Linked DNA regions of Homo sapiens: region 1 is linked to region 2. Evidence: fine-mapped expression QTL. Tissue or cell type: cerebellar hemisphere. Region 2 holds a variant in brackets; the other region holds the start of a gene. All regions are shown on one strand. Distances are from middle to middle.

Region 1 (8,108 bases), 320 kb after region 2:
TACACCATTGCACTCCAGCCTGGGTGACAGAGTAAGACTCCGTCTCAAAAAAAAAAAAACAAACAAAAAACCTTTTTTATAGTAATGCCATTCATTTTGTCATTCCCTCCAAATTATTTGCCAAAAATCCTCTTTCACTTTTGCTGGAAACCAGGAATTGGAAACCTGTGACTTGCAAAAGCATTTTTACCTAGTTATTAGAATGTTCACTTTCTTATTTTACAGGAAACATACCAAAAAAGGTTTTACCAAGACACATCGGCTGCAGGGCAGCCACAGATACCTGCGTTGGTTGTGTACTATACAACTCCTGAGAGCAGTGTTTACACTGTACTCTACTTAAGTTGCATGAGCTGGAATTGTGCAGTGCACAATTTGCAAAGCTGTATGTGGTAGCCTTATACATTTTACCTACTATTGTTTTTTATTTTGAGACGGAGTCTCACTCTGTCGCCCAGGCTGGAGTGCTATGGCGCAATCTTGGCTCACTGTAACCTCCGCCTCCCAGGTTCAAGAGATTCTCCTGCCTCAGCCTCCTGAGTGGCTGGGATTATAGGCGTATACCACCACACCTGGCTAATTTTTGTATTTTTAGTAGAGATGGGGTTTCACCATGTTGGTCAGGATGGTCTTAAACTCCTGACCTCATGATCTGCCTGCCTCGGTCTCCCAAAGTGCTGGGATTACAGGCGTGAGCCAATGGGCCTGGCCTTTTTTTTTTTTTTTTAACTTGGCAGCAACTTGTTTAATCCAGTATGTAAATGAAGTATACAAAATGTTCTATCTATGCCCATCATCTACACACATTGTTAATGATATCACAGCATATCAAACATTTAATGGCATGGCTGTACTTAGTGGAAAGATGTACTAATAAGGTAAAAATTATAAATAAAATCATTATTTTTAGAACTCGGAGTCCTTTGAAAGCTGAAGTGTGATGTCAATAAGTCATCTAACTCCATGCCAAGCTTAGTATCTGCCAAATCATTTATGTCTCATTTCCATGGCAGCACTTTATTTCTTTAAGACTTGGAACCACAGATGGCACATCTGTTTTCTTGAACGGTATCATTAATTTATTTGATTTATGAATGCTAATTATATGTTTCTGAATGCATCAAATCTATCAGCATTTGCAATGGTCTCTTTGATAAGCACATGGTAAAGAGGAACTATGCCAGGCAATACCCTTCAGGACCTGCTCTTCTCTTAGCAAAGTGAAGCAGTATAATAGTCTAATATGTAATATACACTGATATACACTTTTAAGTAGTAATTCACAACCAGGGAACATCACGAAATGAAAGCAAGAGTTTTAGTTGGTTCATGCAGCCATCTGAAATAACTGCATAAATGAGAATATAGTGAATTCTATTATTCATGAATCATTTATTATTACATGTAGTTATGATTCCAGAAGCCCTTACTCCAAGTTAGATGGAGCCTATATTTTTTTATACATCAAACTTGGCAAACAGTAATTATAGCTGCAAAAACAGCCATCTCTACACTTCAGTGACAAAAATGGAGAGAAGTCTCCTTCAATCAGTCACAATTGTGTCCTTGAATGGCAACAGTGACAACAGCATCACTATCAGTTATGAAGGGCAAGCTATAATTACTATTAACTATGAAGTTCATAATTTCTGAAGAAATGTTAAGAAGATGCTAATTTCCAAATTAAGGTTGTGATGCAGAATTAAGTGTAAATATTCTTTCATTATAGTAGCTAACATTTATATATCAAGTCCTAAGTGCTTCATTATTAATTTGTCTTTCCAATAACCTTAGGTTAGGTTGAGAAAGTATCCATGTTGTCTGTGTTTTACAGATCTGAAGACGAAGGATCAGAGAAGTTTAGTAATTTGTGAGAGGCTATATGTTGGATAAGTGGCAGAGATGAGCCTTAAGCCCGAAACTAAATCTCATATGCTTTCCTTTTCTAACTATACTGTTTACCAGATGTTGGGATGTTAAACTTTCATCCTTCTTCCTTTTGGGTCCAACACATTCTCTTATTTGTCCATAAGAATCACCTGCTGCCCTTGATTAGAATGCAGATCCCTAGGTCTCCACCCCGCAGACGTCTGTGCGTGGGGTGTGGTAGTTGTGGGGGCTGCATAACCAGCATCTTACATAATTCAATTAAGATGATCTGACTTGTGGAATTAAACTAAAACCCACCCACAGGAGAACCAACAGATGCTATTTATTCAGAGTTTGCTGTAGAAGGGAGTCCCACTCACCATCACTTTGTCAGAGGCTCAAAGGTGGGGCAGACGAGTGGGAAAGCTTTATAGAAGTGAAGAAAAGCCCCCGGTATGCTCTGATTGGAAGTTGTTGGCATGGGAAAGCTGCAGGTGGGCTACTAGAAGCGGGGGTATTTTATGTGATGGGTTTGCGGAACATATTTGGCTTTCTCTGGTTGGTGCAGAGGTGGAACTAGGGGTAAAAATAGGGAAGTTGCACTTTGGAAGTCCCAGGCAGGAAGATCGCTTGAGTCCAGGAGTTTGAGACCAGCCTGGGCAACATAGTGAGACCCTGTCATGAAAAAATATTTAAAATTTTTCAAAAATTGCACATCTGTAGTCGTAGGTACTTGGGAGGTTGAGGCAGAGGATCTCTTGAGACCAGGAGATCGAGGCTGCAGTGAGCTAAGATCGTGCGACTACATTCCAGGCTGGGCAACATAGCAAGACCCTGTCTCAAAAAAGAAAAAAAATAGGGAAATTGCCAGTCGTTGACTACTTCCTGACTGTTCTGGTTCAGCTGCTACCAAGGTTGTGGTCTGGCTTCCTGGGCTTCTTATGTGGTTCAGAGTTCTGTTGTCACATACTATCTGGCCATTCATGTATATTGCGTTTCTGAGACCATACTCTGGGAAACACATGGTCCTCTGGTGGTGGTGAAGGTCCCTGTGAGCTAGGGACCATCTGTCAACACTCTTATCACTACTAGTGTCTATCCCTATCAGGCACTAGAAGCACTTAATAAAATCTTGCGAATGAATGAATGAATGATATACAAAAATATTTGATACTGGCTTTAGTTGGAACAAGAAAATGAACTTTGTGTACCACATAGACATCTGTGACTAGAGTGGCCGTCACCAGAAAGGCTGCTCCTTCCAGCTGCTATGCTCTAAATACAATAACCTGAATCTTAGCACGACTGGACTTCGCCTGGACTTCGCCTTGGCCCCGGCTGCCCAAAGTTTCTCTCAAAGCTTCAGCTTAACCCCTGATGTGCTCACCAGCACCAAGGCGCCCTCCTGAGTGCTTTGCTGGGGGTGGGATGGCGTTTGTGGGAAAGGCCGGCTACTTCTGGCATTTCAACGGCGCCTCCAATCCCTGACCTTTAGTTGTGCCCCATTCTCTCCACTCTTTCCCCCTTCTCTGTCCTCACGATTGAGTCTGGGCTGGCGAAGCCTACTGAGGGAGGGGAGTGTACACACATGCACACGCGCGCGCGCGCACACACACACACACACACACACACTCATATATGGTGTTATTAATAATTCAGGACTCAGAGTTTATCTAAGAGAAGACGCTCGACCGGGTGTGAGAGAGCGCGCGGGACAGAGAGCGAGCCAAGGAAGGGGAAGGCGGCGGCGCGCGCTGTCTCCTGGGGAAGCAGTCCCACCTGCTGTGGGGGGCGCCGCTGGGGAGGGGCCGAGCCGTGCTCACGCCTGCACGCCCCGCCCCGCTCGCCGCACGGCCCGGCGACGGGGGAGTTCCCGCGAGTGGCCTCGCGCCCAGACCGTGCGGGGGGCTGTTCGGGTGGAGGCGGGGGAGCCGCCGGGACACCAAAATAGGAGCTGCTTGTGGGGTGGAGCGGCACTAGCTGGCGGCTTCCGAGCGCCTCTTCCAAAGATGGTCAGAGGGGCCGGAGGCGTCCCCGCTCCCGCTCGCTACTAGCCCGCGGGCCAGCGCCGCGTCCCGAGCCCCGGCGGGAGGTAGGTGCGGTGTGGACCCGCAGCCCGAGGCCGGCCTGCTGGGAGCGAGCGGGGCCGGGCGCGGGGAGCGGGGCCGGGCGCGGGCAGCGGGGCCGGGCGCGGGCAGCGAGGCCGCGCGGGAGAGGAGCGCAGACAATGGCCGCGCGGGCGCCGGGCCGGGCCGAACGCGTTGCGCTGGGGCTGCCTGCGGCGTCCTTCCCACACCTGCGCGGAGCGCCGGGCAGAGGGACGCGGGCACCGGGCCCGCGGGCGGCACGCGGCGCCCTCGAGTCCAGCCCCGCTCCTGGCCCCGGGGCGGGGCGGTCTCCGGGCGGGAACGTGGGCCGGGGCCCAGGCGCGGGGCGCGCGGAAACCCCTGCGGCGGGCGCGGGGGAGGGGGCGAGGGCTGCAAGGGCTGCGCCGAGCTGCCTTCCTTTCTCTCCTTCCTTAAGCGAAAGGGCTCGGGATTTCCCTTTTCCGAGACCTCTTCTTGTCCATTTATATTTCCATCATCCCTTTCTTGGCATTTCGATGTGATTTGAAAGGGAGACGAGCTTGGGGAAAAGGTTGAATTGGGGCCGAGCCGAGACAGCTGAGGTCCGGCCTCGAGTGGGGTGACCCTCGGACACTTGCCTTGCCTAGTGTGGGATCTCATCTCCGAACGCCAGGCCAGGGTAGATTGCGGTGAATGGAATAGCAAATCAGTACTCTCAAAAGGACTACTGAAAAATCCAGGAGCCTCATTTCAAGCTCCGAGCTACCCTGAATTTAAATTGACCACCATATAAATGATCAAACAGTCCATCCACATTTTGCATTTATTATTTAGATGCTGAACTTAGTCCAGTTTTGGAGTATATCCGATGATAGTCAAGTTATTTAGCGTTGATTATTTGAGAGAATGTGCAACATTGAAAACACATTTGTTATTTCATATTTATTGCAGCCATGGCTCTAAAAGGACAAGAAGATTATATTTATCTTTTCAAGGATTCAACACATCCAGTGGATTTTCTGGATGCATTCAGAACATTTTACTTGGATGGATTATTTACTGATATTACTCTTCAGTGTCCTTCAGGCATAATTTTCCATTGTCACCGAGCCGTTTTAGCTGCTTGCAGCAATTATTTTAAGGCAATGTTCACAGCTGACATGAAAGAAAAATTTAAAAATAAAATAAAACTCTCTGGCATCCACCATGATATTCTGGAAGGCCTTGTAAATTATGCATACACTTCCCAAATTGAAATAACTAAAAGAAATGTTCAAAGCCTGCTTGAGGCAGCGGATCTGCTACAGTTCCTTTCAGTAAAGAAGGCTTGTGAGCGGTTTTTGGTAAGGCACTTGGATATTGATAATTGTATTGGAATGCACTCCTTTGCAGAATTTCATGTGTGTCCAGAACTAGAGAAGGAATCTCGAAGAATTCTATGTTCAAAGTTTAAGGAAGTGTGGCAACAAGAAGAATTTCTGGAAATCAGCCTTGAAAAGTTTCTCTTTATCTTGTCCAGAAAGAATCTCAGTGTTTGGAAAGAAGAAGCTATCATAGAGCCAGTTATTAAGTGGACTGCTCATGATGTAGAAAATCGAATTGAATGCCTCTATAATCTACTGAGCTATATCAACATTGATATAGATCCAGTGTACTTAAAAACAGCCTTAGGCCTTCAAAGAAGCTGCCTGCTCACCGAAAATAAGATCCGCTCCCTAATATACAATGCCTTGAATCCCATGCATAAAGAGATTTCCCAGAGGTCCACAGCCACAATGTATATAATTGGAGGCTATTACTGGCATCCTTTATCAGAGGTTCACATATGGGATCCTTTGACAAATGTTTGGATTCAGGGAGCAGAAATACCAGATTATACCAGGGAGAGCTATGGTGTTACATGTTTAGGACCCAACATTTATGTAACTGGGGGCTACAGGACGGATAACATAGAAGCTCTTGACACAGTGTGGATCTATAACAGTGAAAGTGATGAATGGACAGAAGGTTTGCCAATGCTCAATGCCAGGTATTACCACTGTGCAGTCACCTTGGGTGGCTGTGTCTATGCTTTAGGTGGTTACAGAAAAGGGGCTCCAGCAGAAGAGGCTGAGTTCTATGATCCTTTAAAAGAGAAATGGATTCCTATTGCAAACATGATTAAAGGTAAGTGGAGATTATGTTTATTTTGTATTTTTTAGATGTCTGGAGCTAGGCCAGCAGTCTCACTTCTCTTGAATTTATCACTTTGGGATGCTATCTAGGAACTATAGTTAATTATACAAATAATGCTACACAGAATGTTCCAGATAAAAACAGTATAGCATAGTTCCCAACTTGTCTGAGAGTTATGAGAATTTATATTCAAGTCAAGGGCTAGATGAAGAGACAAATCTGGACAGTTTTTCATTTTTTCATGTTCTTAAAATTGAACCCTTTAAAATTCTGCTATTCAACTTTTTCCTCTCAAAATACGCTGATCAGCTCTCAAGAGGTCCTTCATTAAAACCTTGGAAGGTTTGGTCCCTACAGGATGTAACAAAGTACATTCTTCCAGGAACTAGAGACAACGTCTGCTTTTGCAATTCAGTCCTCTCTGAGAGGGGCAGACACCATACTCTCCCTCATGTGGCCCACAGAACCCGGCACACCCCTGGGTCTCGGTATCTGTCTGATAAACACTATTTTCTGCTGTGTTTGGCGATTTGTTTGCCTTGCTCTCCTTCTCTCCCACTGGAAAAAAAGTTAAACGGGAATCTTATTTCATTGTATTTATTCATTGGTGCTGAGGAGTTGTACAAAAACAACTGGTAGGTCGTTACCAAATTTGTATCATTTTGTCCCAAATGTTTCTTCCCAGGCTTTTCTGTTTCTTTTTTAATGCTAGTGAGAGTGTGGGAATTTGACCTGGTCTGGAAATCTGACCTGGTATGATCCTTGGATGACAGGCAGGAAGCTGAGAGGCAGAACAGTCTTGGGATCAGGCACGCTGCCTCTGAAGCTAAACTGCCTGCATCCAGATCCCTGCTTTCCTCTTACTTGCTGATGAGCTCTGGCAAATTGTTTAATCACCCTGTGCCCCCGTTTTGTCATCTGTATAATGGGGATGACAATATTACCTAGTCTCGGATCATTGAGAGGATTAAATTAATCTATGCTTGTGAAGTGCCTAGAACAGTGTCTGACACAGAGTAAGCATGCTATAAATGTTACGCATGATTGTCCTGAATGTCGGTATTGAAGGACATGTCAGCTCTTATAGAGCAGAAATTGATTTCATGTGAAGTTGTGACCACTGTCACACCAGGGTGGGAGAAGGTAGCAGAAAGCCCGGTGCTGTTGCTCCCCTGGTTTTTGTCTTTGCCTGAGTCTCACCACTACTTGCCGATTCCAGGAGGGCTCTGAATGTCCTGACCCCTCTTCTGCAAAAGAAATAAGAAAAGTCCATATATTTAAGGAGCTATTGTAAACTAGCATACATTTCTGATTCTGTTTTTTAAGGATGATATAACAGTTTCAATGGTTTTGTGGTTCAGAGTATATTTCTTTTTCTTTTTCTTTTTTTTTTTTTGAGATGGAGTCTCACTCTGTCTCCCAGGCTGGAATGCAGTGGCGTGATCTTGGCTCACTGCAACCTCTGCCTCCCGGGTTCAAGCAGTTCTCCTGCCTCAGCCTCCTGAGTAGCTGGGATTACAGGCATGTGCCACCACACCTAGGTAATTTTTGTATTTTTAGTAGAGACGGGGTTTCACCATGTTGGCCAGGCTGGTCTTGAACTCCTGACCTCAAGTGATCCCCCCACCTTGGCCTCCCAAAGTGCTGGGATTACAAGGGTGGGTTCAGAGTATATTTCTTTGAGAATGAAAGCTTATTACTTTACTGAAATTTTAAAAATTTATATTTAGAACAGTGCTTGTTGAAAAAAGATATGCTGCGATGGTGTATCTACTGTGAAACAAAAGCCATATGCATGCTTGCGTTAACCTTGAGTGGAGTAGGAGACCCTCATACCTCAAAGTCCTCCCTCACCTGCTAACTGGGTCTGAAATTCCAGTTTTATACTTTGAACTCAAAGCTTTGATTCTTGTTTATATCTAGTCATCCCAGGGAGAGGTAACACTGCCAGTTATGTGCAGTTTTGACTACTGCTTGTTTTGGTGGGTGGACTCATAC
Region 2 (8,108 bases):
CGGGCATGAGGCACTGAGCCTGGCCTATTATACACTTTTAATGGCCTATTTACTGCCACAATCACTTTTTTATCAAAAATTAAAATTAGATGAAAACTCAAAGCTCTCCACATTCTTCGCCTTTCAGGAAAGAAAAAAACATGTAGTACATACCCTACAAACCTCCATATATGATGTGTGTAAATTAACTTATTTATAAATCACGTACACATGCTATTTTACTACATATTATGTACATTGTAAAATATGTCCCCAAATAGAAATTTTTCAGTATAAGATACATATAAATCAAAATGGAGGCAATTCCCTTCTCCTCCTGAATGGAGTATCTTGCACATGCCTGAGGTGGGTACCCCCTATTCTGGAAGCTATTACCCTAACAGTTATCTGACTCTCACCAGTAAATGAGAGAGAGACAAACTGGTGATCTGGCACAGTGGAAAGAGCAAGGGCTTTGATGAACCCAATCCTGCATTGGAAAACTGTGGTTTCATTAGTGCTGGCGTGACCTTGGCAAGAGTCCTAATCTTGTTGAACCTCAGGGTCCTCTTCTGTCAAAGGAGGGTGATGATACATACAAATGATATTGTCCATAAAACGCAGTGCTTGGCATGGCATTATTATTACTTAGAGCTGAAAGAAGGTTTCAAAGGTCACTTAGGGAACTACTAGAAAGATCCAGTCTCCTGGATTTTTAAAGCCACACAGCTGGCTACTGACAAATCTAGGGCCACCCTGCTCTCTTTACTGAGCTGATGGGCGGCCTCAAAAAATGTACTGTCAGACAAGGTTTCCCTGGGACTGGAAATATAAATTCCATAATGAAATTTTCCACACACGTGGTTACTCCATGTGTAGCCTATTCAGAGAAACAATTAATAGTTACACATGTATAGTTGTTACTAAATGGTTTTTAAAAACCACAAACCACAGAGAAAAATATATCCTATTACCAGTATCAAGAATTAAATATATTTTATTTTAAAATCTATACAGTGGGCAAAGCTCTGGTCCAAAAGGAATGCTACCTAGATCCTAGCCCCAACTGTGACATGGACATGTCACTTGACAACCCTATATCTTATTTTCCTCATACATTAAGTAAGAATGATATTACTTACACTCGTTGCAAGATTAGCATGCAATAATATAGGTTAGGGAAAGGATTCTACAAATAACTATCATTATCGCTATTGTCTCCCCAACAACGATCAAATTATCTCACACACACACATACACTTGAGAACCAGTGTCCTTCCAGCCCAAAGGCTAGTCACTTTAGAGAAGAGACCAAGGCTCACTCTACTAGTCCACAGGTGGTCTCAACAACAAAAAGCACGGACATTTGCTGTCTTCTCTGATCCAAAGACAGAATGTTCCCAGGCATGGACCCACCCTGAGCTATTCCTTATCAGCAGCCTTAGGACCTCTGACCTATAGACCAGGTGGATGGTTTGCTCCATCCGCCTTTGGAATTTCAGGTGGCCAGATTGCAGCATTTCCTACCTGACTAAGACAGCGTCTGCTTTGGCTCACCTGTTTGGAGCTCTAGTCCTTTACTAGGACTGATGCCCTGTTAGCTAAAAATAGGTGCCATATTTTGGGCCTACTGCTGTCCTGGGTATTTTGTATACATTATTTCCATTCCTTAAAACAACCTGTGAAGTGGTGATTATTATTTCATTTTACAGTTACAGAAACTGAGAGCCAGAGGTTAAATAGCTCCCCAAAGTCAGACAGCTAGGAAAGAAAATACTAATCTGGCTCCAAATCACATGCTCTTTCTAAAACATTTCCCACCTTGATTCCCTGTCTGATTCCTGCCTGATCTACCCTCAGATTCTGGACCCTATCTCTCTACCCTTGCAGGGGTGTTGCCAGGAACCGCTCGCTGTACTGGCATCCATTCCTGTATTCTGCTTCGAGACTCACCTACTAAATGGAGCACATTGGAGCTTACGGGAGTGTTCGGTATGACACATGCATGTACCCGGATTTACTAATTGCCTGGCAATCCCATATTGCTACACTCTTCAGGCCCAGGGCATCGTGTTGCACAGCCTTCCCGCATACACACTTCCCTTTCTCTCTCCACTCAATCTCGGTGTCCTCCTGTTTCATGCCAGCCAATGTTCTGAGGTTCCAGCATGCTTCACAGCAAAGCCTATTACCCCAGAATGATGATTTAAGGAATTGACAAATTATTTATTACTTTGGAAAACACCATATTTCATTCAGATGGATAACTGGGATTCACCATTAAGGGGGGGAAGAAAACCACAGTAGGCATCTAGGCTTGTCTTTAGAGACAAAGCAGTCATTTAGATGGAAAACATCTGTGAGTAGCAGGAGTCTTTTTAATCTCCATAGATATAAAGGAATCAGTGTGGGAGGGTATCCCCGAGCCCATTTTAAACTCAGGGACATTGATATGAAATCCCAGTAGAGGGCAATAATCCACATGAAATTTTAATGAGTTCACCCTAATTCTCCAAGTTCTGAGAAATGGAAAAAGCTCCACAATCAAGTTTTTATAGGCATTTGGAAAAGATATTTAGAAAGCACAAATTAACTATGATATCCTAAGAGGGAGTTTTGTGGATCTCACGGAATGGGAATGATGCCATACATTTTGTTACAGGTCACTTTGCTATAGACTTAAAGCCCTGACTTTAAAATAAATGCCCTGTGCTTCTCATGTGCTGGTGAACATAGTTATCTTTAGCTATAGTTCCAATTATACAAATGTATGAATCAATTTAGCAAAATTCGGACCAATAGCCAAGGTAAGCACAGGGTCTAGCAAAGTGGCTTCAACTCCTGGATTAAAAAATAAAGTATGGGCAAGTCATGGTGGTTCACGTCTGTAATCCCAGCACTTTGGGAGGCCAAGGTGGGCAGATCACTTGAGGTCAGGAGTTTAAGACCAGCCTGGCCAACATGGAGAAACCCCATCTCTACTACAAATACAAAAAAATTAGCTGGGTATGGTGGCACATGCCTGTAAACCCAGCTACTCGGAAGGCTAGGGCACAAGAATCGCTTGAACACAGGAGGCAGAGGTTGCAGTGAGCTATCACACTACTGCACTCCAGCCTGAGTGACACAGTAAGACCCTGACTCAAAAAAAAAAAAAGTGTGACTGTGTTTTCTATGAGGCATCTGTGCAGCAACTATTTAAGCAACTATTATCAAGGTTAGATGGGGGGGTAACTCTGTCCCCATCACCAAGAGAGTGTCCAGAGAAATGTGCCAGACTCTTGTGACACCTTTGCTCTCATTAGACTTTAACATGTGATCACACACCACATTTCTCTCTCCCTTCCTGTCTGAGAACTGAACAAATATCAAAAGCGGACTTAGTTTGCTGCAAAGTGATTCAGCAAGGCAAGACGGATGGGGTACGGTTATCCTTCAACAAGTAACCATGCTTCACATGTTTGGCATTGTTTTCTTCTGTGTCAAAAACTATGGTGGGGAAATGAGGAGCCAGTGGTCAAAGGTAAAAACCTTCAGTTATCAGATGAGTCCATCCTGGAGATCTCATGTAACACGGTGACAATAGTCAGCAATGCTGCATTGTATACTTGAAATTTGCTGAGAGAGCAGATCTTAAGTATTCTTACTACACACATACACAGACAAAACTATGTGAGGTGATGGATATGTTAATTAGTTTCATTGTGGAAATAATTTCAGAATATAAACATATACCGAGTCCAGGTGTGGTGGCTCACGCCTGTAATCCCAGCACTTTGGGAGGCCGAGGCGGGCGGATCACCTGAGGTCAGGAGTTTGAGACCAACCTGACCAACATGGAGAAACCCCGTCTCTACTAAAAATACAAAAAATTAGCCAGGCATGGTGGCGCATGCCTGTAATCCCAGCTGCTCGGAAGGCTGAGGCAGGAGAAT[C/T]GGTTGAACCCGGGAGGCGGAGGTTGTGGTGAGCCGAGATCACGCCATTGTACTCTAGCCTGGGCAACAAGAACAAAACTCCATCTCAAAAAAAAAAAAAAGCGTATACTGAAACATCACCTTGTACATCTTGAATATATATTATTTTTATTTGTTAATTATACCTCAATAGAGCTGATGAAGAAAGGAAACTGAAGCCAAATACTTCACCATATTCATGAGGAATGGTAGTAAATGCCCATGGCAGCACTTGTGCAACAGCCAAATTGCTAAGAGAGTCTTAAAGGGTAGAGATCAGAACTAATTAGTGTCAGTGCCCTAGCAAAACAGCTGGAACCTACTCAAAACTTCAGACTTCAAAGAGGACAGAAGTTGGTTTCCACACAAGTTCCCATCAATGTTGACAGGGTCATGGATGTCACCTTATGTCAGGGCTTGTTCATGACTTACTGCTATAATATTGTGTGTTTAGAGATTTTCATGCCAAAGAACCACTCGGATTCTTCTTAATTTGCAACCAAGAAACATCAGGGGTCTTCCAGTTAAATATAGAAACTGGCCCTTACACTTTCCTAAGCCTCTAATGGAGATGATCTCTCCTTGATGTCATTATAAAGGGACTCACTCTGGATGCACTGGGGCCCAGGTATGCACAGGTGGCATTGCCTGTTGTAATTTGATGTTGCAACTCTGGTTCTTTTGTGCTCCTGTTGTCCTCTGGTTCAGTGACAGAGGGGTGGGCTGAGGGAGTCGCTGAGGGATCCCACAGTAGTTTTGCAGCCATAGGGATTATCTTGTCCCAAGCCTGTATGTTCCTTGACTTTTTTTTTCATGTTGCCCATATATGACAATTGAGATAATATATGTCAAGTGCTTATTACAGTACTTGGCACATAACTGGTCAGTAAATATTAGCTATGATTAATTATTCTTTTTTGTCTAAGAACTGTAGCTTAGGTGAGGATCAGAGCAAATCCACTGAGCTTCAAGGGAAAGAAGCAATAAATTTGATTAAAGCCTCATAACTCCATGCCAAACCTCTGCTATAATAATCACAGCTTTATGTCACTGGTTAGCAACACATGAACTGCCAGACACAACTATTTGACAATACACTGTGAACCCCAAACAAATAGGGATAGGAAGGGCAAAAGGAGACAGGGCTCATGCTTACATGTCTGAGATAAGAAATGTTTCCAAGAACTTTCTAAAAACCCTTTTGCATCCTTCATGCATCTCCTGCTTTGCTAAGTTTCATCACTAGACATTCTTTAGGGCTACAAAAACTCAGATAAGATGTTCTCAGAAGAACACTTGCCCAGTAGTGGTACCTCCACCAACGAGCTGACAACTCTGGCTTTGAACCTCTGGACCCAAAAAACTCTTGTTTCTAAGCATCTTATGTAAATTGATTTTTTCCTAATAAACTTTTCCCTTTACTCTTCCCTTACCAAATGCACTGTTACCTTGCCATTTCATGCATTCCGGATTATAATCCTTACTTCTATTCCTGAGTAAACCCAACATATTTAGGGATAGTTTTCTCTATTGTATTTTTTTTAGGTTGCCAACACTGTAAAAAGATAATTCCCCAAAAAAGGTAAAATCATACGTCCATACAGATATAAAAATGAAAATACATTAAAGATTGTAGGCTGGACACAGTGGCTCATGCCTGTAATCTCAGCACTTTGGGAGGCCAAGGTAAGCAGATTGCTTGAACCCAGAAGTTCAAGATCAGCCTGGGCAACATGATGAAAACCCATCTCTACCAAAAAATACAAAAATTAGCCAAATGTGGTGGTGCACACCTGTAGTCCCAGTTACTGGGGAGGCTGAGGTGGGAGTATCACTTGAGCCCAGAAGACAGAGGTTACAGTGAGCTGAGATGGCGTCACTGCACTTCAGCCTGGGTGACACAGTGAAACTCTGTTGCAAAAAAAAAAAGATTTTATTTAACTCAATGAAAAAATTGGAGAGATGTTATACCCTTTTTTGACTATACCCAAAGGAGAAGTCAAAAAAAGCACAAATTTATATGGAATAAAGAAATATTGAAACTAATGCACAAGTGAAGGCAAAATGAGCTTCCTCTGCAGTGGAGAGGGTAGGCAGCAGAACCTTTACTGTACAGAACAAAATTCGTGTGTCTATAGACAAGAATTATTTTGTATTGTCATTAGTTATCTACAATTTACAAACTTGAATATAGCCCCCAAAGAATCAGAACCAGATAACATGAAATGGTGTCACCTAAACAGTGCCTAGTTTTTCATCGAAGCACACATTTTTCCCTACAACACCTATATTTATATCACATTGCGATTAAGAAACTAATGGCAATTGATCTACACGGTTGTCGAAGTAAGTAGTCTGAAAGAATGGTGCAAACACCAAAGATCTTTCAAGGAGGTTGGCCAATAAGACCAAATCCAATTGTTTCAGTCTCAAATCATTAAAATGTACTTCATGTTCGGTAATAGTAATAAACACTATTATGTGTCTAAGTGTCCACGTAGTTGGTTTCAGAATGATGATTCAACCATTATATTGCATGTTCTTTTAGGAGCTACAGCCCAAAGCTGTTTATTTGAATCATTGCTCTATCTACACCTAACCTTCCATCATTTTTTTTTTACCAATGAGTAGGATCTGTGGAATTGGATAGAAAAAGAGCTCCCAGCACCTTAACTGAGATAATGATAATTCTTACATATATTGTCCCAAGTTCACGTGGCATTTAGAATTGCTATCTTGATTAGTAATAAAGATCTTCCCCTAGCATTTCCTCTAGTGCCATTTGGCTTTGATTGTTATTTAATTTCATTTTATTTTACTTGGTTTCACCAACTGAGATTTCATGAGTCTACTAAGTGAAGGAAGCATTAATTCCTCTCTAGCCACAATTGCTTCAATGGAATCAACGGATATCTCTACATCTACTTGTATAACTCAGAGACAACCTTACAAATGGCACACATACCCCCCTTCCTTGTTAACCAAAGGGAGACCAGTGGAAATAAGTGTCATGGGTCTGCCTAATAATGGTATAAGACAAAATAATATTTTTAAAATATTCAACTGACGCAGTTTTGGTGTCACAACCCCTAGTAATTCCTGGTTTCCCTGAAGCTTTCTACTTACCTAGCCTAGAACAAAGAAGACAACTGAGTTGCTTTATCAGCTCACAGAAGACACAACAGTCTGAAAGCCAAAGCCAAGGGATTGAGTTGCAAGTGCTTGAGAAAATACCGTGATGATTTTGTTTTGAATTGCAACATAATTTAACTAAAGGACTAAACATAGAGTTTTAAATTAGCAATAGCAATGGTGCAATATAGAAAGTAAGGGCAGGCCAGGCACGGTGACCCATCCCTGTAATCCAGTACTTTGGGAGGCCGAGGCAGGTGGATCACTTGAGGTCAGGAGTTCAAGACCAGCCTGGCCAATGTGGTGAAACCCCGTCTCTACCAAAAATAGAAAAAAAATAGCTGGGCATGGTGGTGCACACCTGTAATACCAGCTACTCAGGAGACTGAGGCACGAGAATCGCTTGAACCCAGGAGGTGGAGGTTGGAAGTTGCAGTGAGCCGAGATTGCGCGCCACTGCACTCCAGCCTGGGTGACAGAGTGAGACTCCGTCTCAAAAAAAAAAAAAAAAGGAGTTAAGGACAGACTGTTACCCCTTTAAGGAGGGTAAAAGACCTTCCTAGGTTGGAGGAAGAAGGGAAGTTCAAATGTAAGTAAAAGGTCTGCTTCCCAGCTCCCTCTTCCTTTCATCCTGGATGAAATTCAGAAAGTTCCAGACTTTTCTGGTCATTTCTAGATTATAAAAAGCCCAAATGGTCACATCAAGTTGCAAACAAAGTCTCAATTTGGGAAATGAATGTGTTCATTCCCAGGTATTAATAATTACCAAAACATTGGATCTGATTTCACAGTTAAATTTCACCCCCTTTCAATTGTGGTCTTTGTACGTAGGTAACCAAAGAATGGAACACAATGCTATATTCCCAGCCTAGATTTCTGCTCCTTCTCTTCTATTTGCTATCTTGCTAGCTGTGTTTTCTGACTCTTCAAGGGCCAAAGCAGAAGGAGGAAAGAAGAAAAAGGGGAGTGGGAAAAGGAGAAAGAAAGTTTTTACTTGATTGGGAATGTAATAAGATGGTCTTGGCTCTCTGGTCTGGAAGATGC

Evidence for each region. PIP is the estimated chance that this variant, and not a neighbour inherited with it, causes the effect.
Region 1: it holds the start of KLHL23, and the variant in region 2 is fine-mapped to the expression of KLHL23 in cerebellar hemisphere (GTEx, PIP above 0.99).

What each region holds. Positions count from the first base shown.
Region 1 is chr2:169,730,127-169,738,234 of GRCh38, forward strand. It overlaps KLHL23 (kelch like family member 23), which reads left to right and starts at 3,706. Exons shown (of 4, transcript NM_144711.6): 1 at 3,706-3,961; 2 at 4,887-6,101. The coding sequence starts at 4,889. All of the region lies in intron 3 of PHOSPHO2-KLHL23 (PHOSPHO2-KLHL23 readthrough), which reads left to right. RefSeq lists silencers at 3,577-4,016, 4,037-4,106, 4,217-4,396.
Region 2 is chr2:169,405,629-169,413,736 of GRCh38, forward strand. No RefSeq gene overlaps it. Among named protein-coding and RNA genes, the nearest start is that of LRP2, 47 kb to the left of the region's middle. The variant C/T (reference allele first, on the strand shown) is at 3,915.